Linked DNA regions of Homo sapiens. The protein of the gene in region 1 purifies or fractionates together with the protein of each later gene. This does not show direct contact. Each region holds a gene or a part of one and is shown on either strand. Other genes may lie near its edges. The genes, in order: FBLN2 and RSAD1.

Evidence for each region.
Region 2: the proteins of FBLN2 (region 1) and RSAD1 purify together in Homo sapiens (co-immunoprecipitation; 2 studies listed by BioGRID and IntAct, with this or other methods). This does not show direct contact.

Annotation. Positions count from the first base shown.
Region 1 is NC_000003.12:13,566,115-13,573,392, forward strand, and holds part of FBLN2 (fibulin-2 isoform a precursor), read left to right. Parts: intron 1-2,625; exon of another isoform or gene 2,626-2,966; intron 2,967-4,200; 5' UTR 4,201-4,241; coding exon 4,242-5,547; intron 5,548-7,278. UniProt on the Homo sapiens protein: Its binding to fibronectin and some other ligands is calcium dependent. May act as an adapter that mediates the interaction between FBN1 and ELN.
Region 2 is NC_000017.11:50,481,587-50,486,479, forward strand, and holds the end of RSAD1 (radical S-adenosyl methionine domain-containing protein 1, mitochondrial precursor), read left to right. Parts: intron 1-504; coding exon 505-870; intron 871-1,056; coding exon 1,057-1,120; intron 1,121-1,753; coding exon 1,754-1,901; intron 1,902-2,119; coding exon 2,120-2,174; intron 2,175-2,855; coding exon 2,856-2,959; exon of another isoform or gene 2,960-3,056; intron 3,057-3,157; coding exon 3,158-3,275; 3' UTR 3,276-4,388; downstream 4,389-4,893.

The DNA.
Region 1 (7,278 bases):
GGCTCTGACTGCTGGGACTGTCCCCCCGCAGGGAGGTCAGGCCTCCTTCCCCACCCCATCTCCAGGGGCTTCTTTTTTCAGGTTGCTGAGGGGTGGGAGCTGTCTGCAGAAGCCGGGGTTGTGGGAAAACTCAGCTGGAGCTCCCAGGAGGGGCATGTTTGATTCTGTGACCCTGCAGTGTAGAGACTGTGCCCTCCTGCTTCTCTCTTGTACGAGTGTCCCCAGCCCTGCTTGCTTATCTCTGGCGATAGATAGGGAGCTCACTCCTTCCCAGCAGCCTGGTCAGTCCCTGCCCTGGAGGGAGTGTTCTCCACTTGGAGCTGACATCTGCCATCTCCTCCATGCCCCCACCTCCCGCCCCACACATACACGCCCCATTGGGAGCAGCTGTGGAGATGTGAGGACAGTGAGGTCTGCTATTCTCCCAGGTGAGCCACCCCAAGGGGCCTGGGCCCCCTCACCACGTGGGCCACTCCCTCTCGACACATCCCAGATGGTCCTTTCCCCTCCTGAGTGGACATACAACCATCAGACAGCACCAGGATACTCTGAGCTGCATGCATTTGGGGGGGCCCAGACGACTTGGGGAACCTGGGAGCTCACACCCCATGTGACATCTCAGGGTGGCCAGAGCTCTGTGGCTTGAAACAGGAGTTGGAAACCTGAATTTTTATGTGAACGTTTTCAATTTATGCATGCTGGTAACCAATTTAAAATGAGAAACCCACTGTGTGAGCCAAACGAAAGCACTTATGGGCCAGATAATGCTGGTGGGCCCCCGACTATGACCTGAGGTATGGTGGAACACGTTCACTGGGTGGATGCAGAACCAGGGCTCAGAGAGGGCCAGGGCCGTGCCTGGGGTTGCGCAGCAAATGTGGAAAATGCAGAGTCAGGCTTGGGCCTGATGTTCTTTATCATTGCCCTGGGCCTGGAGTGGGGAGATGGGCAAGCCTGAGGTTTGGGATTGCTTAAGCATGGACAGAATGTGATGCTGGGGGCCTGGGGGGCCAAGGGGCCAGGTCACCCTGGGGGCTGTGCCGGTGAGCAGAGCAAGGGGATGGACTTGGTGGACCGGGTGGTGGGGCAGGGTGGGCTGGGAAGGAAGTTCTTCTGGAAGAAGTTCTAGGACAGCCCTGTGTCCTGTGGCTGGGGTACTGTCCTCTCAGGACACAACGTTCATGCCTAGGTGTGTGATGCACCTGAAGGCAGGAGGGCAGGGAGCTTGGGTCTCAGTTCACCAAAGATTTCCTTTTGTTTTGAGACGGGGTCTCCCTCTGTTCCCCAGGATGGAGTGCAGTGGCACGATCTCGGCTCACTCCAACCTCCGCCTCCGGGGTTCAAGCAGTTCTCCTGCCTCATCCTCCTGAGTTGCTGGGATTACAGGCACACGCCATCATGCCTGGCTAATTTTTGTATTTCTGGTAGAGACAGGGTTTCACCACGTTGGCCAGGCTGGTCTCGAACTCCTGACCTCAAGTGATCCGCCTGTCTTGGCCTCCCAAAGTGCTGGGATTACAGGCGTGAGCCACCTCGCCTGGCCAAAGATTTCCTTTCTTAAAAGACACTGTCAGCTGGCACGGTGGCTCATGCCTGTAATCCCAGCACTGTAGGAGGCTGAGGCAGGAGGGTCGCTTGAGGTCAAGAGTTCAAGACCAATCTGGGCAACACAGTGAGACCCTTGTTAAAAAAAATTAGCTGGGTGTAGTGGTGTGTGCCTGTAGTTCCACCTACTCAGAAGGCTGAGGTGGGAAGATCGCTTGAGCTCGGGAGGTTGAGGCTGCGATGAGCTATGATCACACAACTGTGCTCTAGCCTGGACAACAGAGTGAGACCCTGTCTCTAAAAACAAACAGAAAGAACTGTTGAGAGTGGACCTGAGGGCCTCTCCCTTGCAGTCTGGAGGGTCCTTGCTTTTGCTGACTGGGAGTAAAGGCCCTGATTCTCCCAGGGGCCCATTCCTAATGTCAGTGGCTTTACGGAGTCCTCCAGCTTCCTGAGGTGGCACCTCAGTGTGAGGGCAGGGGCGTCAGCCCTCGAGGCCCCAGAGGCTCCCTAGCACTCCGCCGGCCCTGAGCCTGGTCTGGGCATGGGCTTCCATCTCCCTGCCCGTCCATGGCCCTCCACCGCAGCCTTCCCTGCCTCGGTCACACAACTCCCCCTTCCAGGCGCTCCTGGACTTCTGTCTTCTGTCCGCTGCATCCTATCCATCAGCAAATCCTGTGGGTCCTACCTTCAAAATAGATCCCCTGTGCCACCATCTCCTGCCTCTCTTCGCTCACTGCCCTGGGCTCTCTCACCTGCTCCCTGCTGGCTCCCGTGTCTCAGCGCAGTGGGCAGCTGGGTGGGTCCCTTGCACTGGAGAGTCCCAGGCTCCAGCGCTTACAGGCACGCCCAGAGGCCCTCACAGCAGGCTGGAAGCCCGTTGCTCTGCAGTTACCACCCGTGTGCTGATGTGGCTCAGCCCTGGGGGCCCTCTCTGTCCTTCACCTTTCTGCTGCTGGTCCGGCCTCAGCCCCTTGGCCCTGCCACTCCCTGCCTGACGCCCTCCTCAGAGAAGCCCTCCTCTTCCGCCGGACTGACACGGGCTCCCCTGACACTGCCACGTCCTCCTTCCGTCTCCTTGATTCCCTTCATTTATTTCATCATGGGGCTCATGCCTGCCTGGCGTTCAGTTCTCTACAGATTTGCTCTTGGGTTTATTATCTGCCCCTCCACCCCTGAGGGTGTCAGTGCTGTGAGGACGCTGGGAACCTGTCTTGCTGGCTGATAAACCCCTGGTTCCTAGAGGGGCTGGGTGCAGAGGAGGCGTTCCTTTAGAAATGGGGCAGGCTTGGGGACCACTGCTGTGGTAACGAGTCCTGCTGTCCCTCTGTCACTGCCCTATGGGGCTGCGCTTTAGGCTGGGAGTCGGAGAAGGAGCTCTTGCCTGTGACTTTGGGGAGCACGCTGTCTATAAGAGTCAGGTACGGCCACTGGGTCACAAGTGGGGCTACAGGCACTGGGGACTTGGGCCAGGGTGGAGGAGGGAGGAGGCATGAGGACTGGTGAGAAGGTGGCATTTGAGTGGCTTGTGCAAGATGAGAGGGGAGAAGAGCCCTTGGGGGAGTTCAGGCCTAAGGGCCTGTGGGAGGGTCGGGTTGGGATGGCTCCTGCAGGGCCTTGAGTGCCAGGCTCAGCTGGGAATCCAGACCTTTCCTTTCTGGCCATGGGAAACTGGGGCGGGCTGTGGGGCCGTGGCATGTCGGGGCCAGCTGCTCTCAGGCCAGACTGGGTTCCCTGGGAAAGGGGAGGAGTGGTGGGCAGGGAGGTGGCGGGGCTGTTCCAGTGGAGATCAGAGCTGAGACTGGAGTGGGGACAGGGCCTAGAGATGGAAGGAAGGGGTAGAGACCGTGGGGAGGGAGTGGAGACAGATTGCGGGGAGAATGGACATGACTGGGGGAGTTGGTGGGGTGTTAGGGACAGCAAGGCATCAGGATGCATTTGCCAGTGCTACTGGGGAGGGGGACAGGAGCGTCCCCTGGGGCTAAGCCTGCAGTCCCGAGGGTCTCAGAGGTGTGTTCCTGAGTCCTAGGGTCTGCGGGCTGGGGCTGTAGGGGGCGTCTTGTTCTTGCCTAGCATTTCCCCACTGACTGTATTTTCTGGCCAGCAGCTGTGGTGCGTGGCTGGGGACTGAGTCAAGGATCTGGGGGGAGGGATTGGTCGGGTGTGTGCGTGGGACTGTGCGTGTGAGACCGCCCAGGGTGTGTACTGGCACGTGGGCATGCTGTGGGTGAGACAGCGTGTGTAACTGCATAGAGGATTATGGGGCATATTGCCTGACGTGCCCTGGTGAGTGTGACCGAGTGGGTGTGGGGCTGTGCATGTGTGTGTGTGGGCACGAGGGCTCACTCAGAGGACCTGCCTCAGAATGCAGGTGAGGATGGAGGATGGAGTGGCCCAGCAAACACGTGTGGGGCTGTCAGCGACTCCAGGTCAACACCTGTGGCGCCCAGCGACTAGACACTCACCTGTGTGTGATCTGACCCATGTGTGGCGGAGCCTGTGTGTGTGTGTGAGGCAGTGCTTAGTGTGCTCCTGGGGATGAGCGCATGCGTGTGAGGTGGCTGAGGCTGGGCCCCTGCCCGCGTGCGTGCCGGTGTGCACCGTGTCTGTGTGTGCACACCCAGTACTGACAGGCTTCCTTTCTGATTCCCCCAGGGTCTTACAGGAGAGGGGACCGTCCTGGGCTGGCCTGGACCATGGTGCTGCTCTGGGAGCCTGCAGGAGCCTGGCTTGCTCTGGGCCTGGCCCTGGCCCTGGGCCCCAGCGTGGCCGCAGCTGCCCCTCGGCAGGACTGCACGGGCGTGGAGTGCCCGCCGCTGGAGAACTGCATTGAGGAGGCGCTGGAGCCGGGTGCCTGCTGTGCCACGTGTGTGCAGCAGGGCTGCGCCTGCGAGGGCTACCAGTACTATGACTGCCTACAGGGTGGCTTCGTGCGCGGCCGCGTGCCCGCCGGTCAGTCCTATTTTGTGGACTTCGGGAGCACTGAGTGCTCCTGCCCACCAGGCGGCGGCAAGATCAGCTGCCAGTTCATGCTGTGCCCGGAGCTGCCGCCCAACTGCATCGAGGCTGTAGTGGTGGCTGACAGCTGCCCACAGTGCGGCCAGGTGGGCTGCGTCCACGCGGGCCACAAGTACGCCGCTGGCCACACTGTTCACCTGCCGCCCTGCCGGGCCTGCCACTGCCCTGACGCCGGTGGAGAGCTCATCTGCTACCAGCTCCCCGGTTGCCACGGGAACTTCTCAGATGCCGAGGAGGGTGACCCCGAGCGACACTACGAAGACCCCTACAGCTATGACCAGGAGGTGGCCGAGGTGGAAGCAGCAACAGCCCTGGGGGGTGAGGTCCAGGCGGGTGCAGTCCAGGCAGGCGCAGGGGGCCCCCCAGCTGCTCTGGGAGGTGGGAGTCAGCCACTGTCCACCATCCAGGCACCCCCCTGGCCAGCTGTCCTCCCCAGGCCCACAGCGGCTGCTGCCCTGGGTCCCCCAGCCCCAGTGCAGGCCAAAGCTAGGAGAGTGACCGAGGACAGTGAGGAGGAAGAAGAGGAGGAGGAGGAGAGAGAGGAAATGGCTGTCACTGAGCAGCTGGCAGCAGGTGGCCACAGGGGGCTGGATGGGCTGCCCACTACAGCCCCAGCTGGACCCAGTCTTCCTATCCAGGAGGAGAGGGCAGAAGCTGGGGCAAGGGCAGAAGCTGGGGCAAGGCCTGAAGAGAACCTCATCCTGGATGCCCAAGCCACGTCCCGCAGCACTGGGCCGGAGGGCGTGACGCATGCACCGAGCCTGGGCAAGGCTGCTCTCGTCCCAACTCAGGCCGTGCCTGGCTCTCCCAGGGACCCAGTCAAGCCCAGCCCCCACAACATCCTGTCCACATCACTGCCTGATGCAGCCTGGATCCCACCCACCCGAGAAGTGCCCAGGAAGCCGCAAGTTCTGCCCCATTCCCACGTGGAGGAGGACACAGACCCCAACTCTGTCCATTCTATCCCCAGAAGTAGCCCTGAAGGTAAGACCCTGTCCTGGTTCCTTCAGGGCACTTTGTGTGGGAAGGGCAGCCTTGGGCTCTGGCCGCTGCCCCAGGTCTCTGCCTGGGGCTGGGGATGCTGGACTGTGGGGCCAGGCCTAGGGTGGCCACCCCAGGCCCTTGGTTTGGGCAGGAGGCTGTGAGAGTGCATCTTCTCCCAGGCCCAGCTCTTGGGATGGGATGGGTGGGTGGGAGTGGGGTTCCTGTTGTGGGAGGTGCTGGGCCCCCTGGTAGGGCTGCGGTAGTGGTCAAGGGTCCAGAAGGTGCACATCTTCAGAGCTGGGGGCCCTGAGGAGGGTTCCTGCCTCAGCCCGGTAGGCCCCCACGTGTCCTGGCAGGAAATGCGAAGGGCGGTCTCTTCTCAGCTGCCCCGGTGGCTGGCCTGTGGCCTAGGAGCCTAGCATGGCCACCTCTGCCAATTTTTCAACAAATGTCAGCCAGAAAGCTGAATTTTATGTGACATCTTCCCATTTCTAAGTGTCTGCAGCAAATCCTAATCTCACAAGCATGTGTTGTAGAAAGAAGTGAACTCGTGGACAGAGGCGAGGTGGGTGGGCCATTTGAGCAGGGGCGCTGGCCATGCTGGGCCAGTGGAGGTGGTGGGGCCACACCAGCTGTACCCTCACTCCATGGAGGCCCCTCTCCGAGCTGGTCAGGCAGCTTCCCATCAGTCCTTCCAGCAGCACCGAGTGCTTACTACTATGTACGCTGTTTCACCAGTGAGGCAACTGGGGCTCGAGGGTGGTGCTGGAGGCTCAGGTCACACAACCAGTGAGCAGTGGGCCTGGAAGGCCCTGGAGCCTGCACTCCTGACCCTATATCCTCCAAGCCACCTGCCACAGAGTTCAATACACTCCATCGGGCACATCAGAGCAGGCAGCCAGGACCAGGGCACCCAGGCTTCAGATAGGGACCGGCCCAAGGCTGTGCAGAGGCTGGTAGGCGGCCCAGGCCTCTTCTTGCCCATCCATGCCTGCTCCCAGCAGGTCCTCCATAGCCCAGCACAGTCAGACACCCCATTTGAAGACCCCATGAGCTGTGGCGAGAAGGGGAATGGTCCGCTGAGCCTACCTAAGAGCCGTCCTCAAAGGGCGCTGCTGCTAAGCAGGGGCCACAGCCCCCACGAGGCTGACCCCTTCCTGCTTACTTTAGGAGCCTTGAACTCCTGCAGGGGGTGATTCTGTCACAAGAGCTGGGGGCTTGCAGATCCAGAAGCCTGGTCTAGCTTCCATGGGGACCTGGGGTGATGCTCCTAAGACCCCACGCAGGTTTGAAACCCCCGTGGGCCAACACTGGAGAGGAGAGGCTTCAGGAGTCCTCTAGCAAACAGGTTAATCTGGGTGGATAACCCTGTGCTGCCACAGCCTAGGGAATCTGGGGGCCTCACAGACCCACAGACATTGGAAAGGCCCAGAGCTCCGTCAGTGTGAGAGGGGACAGCCCCGCACCTGGGGGGAGCGCCTCAAACACAAATCAGATCATGCCACCTTCTGCCCTATATGGCTCCCTCCGGCCGGCCCCTCCCCAGCCTCTTCTCACACCAGTCAGAGCTTCCTTTCAATCAAGTTCAATTCCCTCTGGCTAAGGGGCCTTTGCACGTGCTGTTTCCCCCGCCTGGAGCACCCCCTTCTCACCACTGCCCACTTATCACCTCATCCTCTACATTGCAGCTCAAGTGGAAGCTCAAGACTCCCTGCAGGGAGCCTTCCCTGA
Region 2 (4,893 bases), on another chromosome or scaffold:
ATAATTTACTGTTAAATGATTCAGCATAATAACAGGTATGTATGTTTAAAGAGAAACAAATATGGACAAATGGTGAATCAAGATGAAGGTTTTTTTTGTGATTTTCTTTCAACTTTTCTATAGGTTAGAATTATTTAAAATTGAAAAGTAAAGTAAATAAAGACTTGATTTTGGAGTCAGACAGTCCTAAATTCCAGGTCGAACTTTGCAACTGTATGGCCTGGACAAGTTACTTAACACCTCTGAACCTCAGTTTTCTCATCTGTAAAATAGAACTAATATTGGAGGGTTACAAAGATTAAATTAGACACTACATAAAGGTGCTTGGCACATAGCGACCCTTCTGTGAATGGCAGCTCTTGGTGCCAGCTTGACCTTCCCCCTCCTGCCTTCCAGCTGCCTGCCACGTGCTGCGTTCTCCCTGTATCTGTGTCTACAATGGGGAGGAGGGTTCTTGTCTCTCTCTGAGCTGCTGGTATGCTTACACCCACCCTCTTTTCCCAGTCCCTAGATGACACTGAGCTCCGGCTGTTGGGACGGACGCACTCGGCCTGCGATGCTCTGCGGACGCTGGCAGAGGCCCGGCGCCTCTTTCCCGGGCGCGTGTCTGTAGACTTGATGCTGGGGCTGCCGGCACAGCAGGTGGGGCCGTGGCTTGGGCAGCTGCAGGAACTGCTGCACCACTGTGATGACCACCTCTCCCTCTACCAGCTGTCCCTGGAGCGGGGCACCGCACTCTTCGCCCAGGTGCAGCGGGGTGCCCTTCCAGCCCCTGACCCGGAGCTCGCAGCTGAGATGTACCAGAGGGGCCGGGCTGTCCTTCGGGAGGCTGGCTTCCACCAGTATGAGGTCTCCAACTTTGCCCGGAATGTAAGTTCTGGGGCTGATGGCTGGAGGTGGAGGATGGGCAGACTGCAGTGTGACCAGGGCGTTGTGACCTTCTGAAGAGAAGGATCCTGGCCGAGATGGTGGGACATTCTAACCTGGGGCCCCTTACCTGAGTCTAAAAATGAGGCCTGCCCTCTTCACTCTGCACTATTTCCTCCCTCCCCGCAGGGGGCGCTCAGTACCCACAATTGGACTTACTGGCAGTGTGGTCAGTACCTTGGCGTTGGGCCTGGTGAGTCCCGTGAACTACAGAAAGGGTGACTCAGGAGAGGAATGTCGTGGCTGTGTGAACTTGGGCCACATTAACCTCTCCAAGCCTCTATTTTCTCATATGTAAAATGTGGCAAAAAATAATACCTCCCTATAGAACTGTTGAGCATGAATTATAAGGGGCTTAATGTTGCACCTTGCACTAGGGTTCTCAGCCTTTAGTGTGTATGAGAATCTCCTGGAGGGCTTGTTAAAACCCAAGCTGCTGGGCCCCACCCTCAGAATTCCCAATTGGACAGGGCTAGAGGAGAGCCCAAGAATTTATATGTCTTGGCATTTTGGGATAGATGATTAAAAAAAAAAGAAAAAGAAAAAAGGGCCTGGTGTCATGTGCCTCTAATCTGAGCTACTTGGGAAGCTGAGGTGGAAAGATCGTTTGACCCCAGGCGTCCAAGACCAGCCTGGGCAGTATAGTGAGACACCACCTCAAAAAAAAAAAAAAAAAAAAGAAAGAAAGAAAGAAAGAAAAGAAAAGAAAAATAATTTATATTTCCAGTATGTTAGAGGCAGTTGCTCCAGGGACCACATGATTTAAATCTGGTAAACACATAGTATTAACAGCCATTAATGTGGGGATGGTTGTTGATGTTGTCAGGGGCCCATGGACGATTTATGCCCCAGGGGGCTGGAGGCCACACCCGGGAGGCTCGGATCCAGACACTGGAGCCTGACAACTGGATGAAGGAGGTGATGCTGTTTGGCCATGGCACCCGGAAGCGTGTCCCCCTGGGCAGGCTGGAGCTGTGAGCATCCAAGGGCACAGGGCTCTCCTCCAGGATCCCCACACCCCAAGACCATGTCTATTTGTATATCTTTTATTTCCTGTCTTGTCCTGGCCCCTGCCTTGCCACATACTGTATGGTCCCTGTTAGCCTCCTCTAAATGCATCCCAGTGTAGAATTTGGAGAATGGGAGGAGCACAGGCCTCCTCTCTAAGACTCCTTGGTGATTTTTCTTTGAGGCTGGAGGAAGTTTTGGCCCTGGGGCTACGCACCGATGTGGGGATCACTCACCAGGTAAGGAGTTAGGATTCTTGCACACCACTCCCTCCTAAAGTCTTGCAGAATCAATGCCCCCTCCCTGCCACCCCCCCCACACACATATACCTCCAATTTCTGTGAGATTGGCAGCTAGAAGTGGGGCCCAGGTCCAGCTGAGGCCTGATGGGCAGAAGCAGTGAGCAGTGGTGCATAGCTAAGAACCCTAGACCAGGGCTGCAGAGACCCAAGTTCCAGCCCTCATTTTACTGCAACCTTGGACACAAATCCTTTCACCTCTCTTAACCTCAATTTTCTGAGCTCTGTGAAGCAATAGATAGATAAAGGGTTTCCACTTGTTTTTAGGGAGCACTGAAACCTCTCATAGGAAGCACAGTAGATAATTATCAAGCAAATCCAGAGCTGCTCTGGATAAAGCAGAGCCATAAAGCCCTGGCTAGAGCTGGCTGAGAGGGGAGGGAAGAGAGGAGGCATAGAGGAAGGCCTGGCTTGGCTGGAAGCTGGGTTCCAGTCTCAGTGGAATAGGAGTGAAGCTGCCCTCCTCCCTGCTGGCCCATTGGCCTGGTTCTGCTTTCATGCATGTCAGCTGCTGAGATCTCCATGCTGAACTGGACCCTCCCCCACCTCTCACCATACCCCAACTATGTGGCCCAGAGTAGCCAGGCCAGCTCCCCACCTCTGACCCTCTGGCTTCCCCAGCACTGGCAGCAGTTTGAGCCCCAGCTGACCCTGTGGGATGTGTTTGGAGCGAACAAGGAGGTGCAGGAGCTGCTGGAGCGGGGCCTACTGCAGCTGGATCACAGGTGTGTTGGGGGGTGCCGGGCAGAGGGGGCTGAGGCATACCAGGGAGCCCTGACTACAGCTCTCCACAGACCCAGGAGAAGTGAGAAAGACTGACTGGTAAGGCGGGACCTGCGGGTGCTGGGAGCTCGGCCCTGCTGGGTGATGGGCTTGAAATTGGTAAGATGAAGTAGTCACCTTCAGGCCTCTTGGTTTTCCAGGGGTCTTCGGTGTTCCTGGGAGGGTCTGGCTGTGCTGGACTCTCTCTTGCTGACCCTCCTGCCTCAGCTCCAAGAAGCCTGGCAGCAGAGAACCCCCTCCCCTGTGCCAGGAGGATGACAAAAATGTTCCTGTGTTCCAGGGTAATGCCAGGTGGGTTTTGAGAGCTGGGTCGGTACTGCAGACATCTCTTCTCCGTTGTCGGGTGCCGTCTCTGCTCCTTGTGGTTATTGCTCAGCCCTGGCATCCCCAGGGGAATGGCAGCAGTGAGGTAGATGGGAGGACATTTCTGGTCAGGGAACTGGCATCCCATTCAGCATCTCAGGACTCACAGGCCAACATGTGTTCCATGGCTGGGAATTGCCTACCACCCACATCAGCTTCTGTTTACCTTTTTGGCATCAAATAATGAACAGTGTTTGGAAATCTTTCTACAGGCAATTACCTCCCCAAGAGAAGCCTTCCTTATTTTGGAGTAAGGTCCTAAGATAGCTGGATGAATCAGGAAAACCATGTCCCCTCTAGGTATTATTAATATAAGCAGGAAGGGATCTACTATAGGAATGAAGTATTTATAAACCACTGAAAGGGATAGAGAAGTGAACATTGGAGAAAGCCAGTAGCAACTGTGAGAAATCAGCAACTTGCAGGAGGCACAGAAAACTCCTGCTGATGGTCTCAGCTTCCAGCAGCACAAAAGCAGATGATGTACTGGAAAATGCTCAGAAGATGCTACAAAACCTCATGCCTACTGTCTGCCACTGCTGGAGAAGGAATCATGGTTTCTAGAAGTGCCTCTCATTAGTGGACTTTAAAGCAAATCCTGGCTGGCAGGAAATTCTGAGGAATATAGCTCTTAGGCTTCCAGCCTCTACCATGCAGGAGAGAACACAGAAGGACTGATGTATGTTGGTGGATCCATGTATGTGTCCAGCACAGCGGCCTGCTGGACTCTGAGAACTGGGAAAGATCAGAGCAAGCCTTGCCTCTTATCTTCGGGAAACCAGAATATGTTTGGGGTGGTAGGAGCCACACAGACTCTTCTGAGCCCCCTCACTCACTTCCTTCCCCCTGTGCCTTTCCTTTGAGAGTGAAGGTGGGTGGAGTTGACCAGAGAAAGGGGAGAGAATTCGGGAAAGACCCAAAGTGTTTGTAATTCTTCTTTGTCCTTTTACCTACAGAAATGGTCACATGGTTCTATTTAAATAGCCTAATAAACACATCTGGAGCCTGTCTTGACTGTGGTCCTCTCCTTTGAGCTCCTTCCTAGAGCGTGGAATCCTGATTTTGGGACTAGAACCTTAGCCTAGGGCTGAGATTCCTTCCCCCGCTCCCTACATTTTATTTTGAAGGATTTCAGACCTACAGAAAAGATAAAAGAATAGTTCATTGGAAGCCATATATCCTTTGTCTACTATGTAACTATAAAGTCTGGAAATAGGCAAATATTCATAATGCCATCAAGAACATCTTCAATCTATTGAAAAATATGATAGGCCAGATGGGGTGGTGCATGCCTATAATCCCAGCACTTGGGGAGGCCAAGACGGGAGAATCACTTGAGCCCAAGGGTTTGAGGCCAACCTGGGCAACATAGCAAGACTCTGCTTCCAAAAAAAAAAAAAAAAAAGTTTCCATACTTTGTGGTTACCCTATAGATTCATCAATTGTTAATTTTTGGCCACATTTACTTCATCTTTAGATAAATATGTCTGTATAATTTTTTTTCTGAATAATT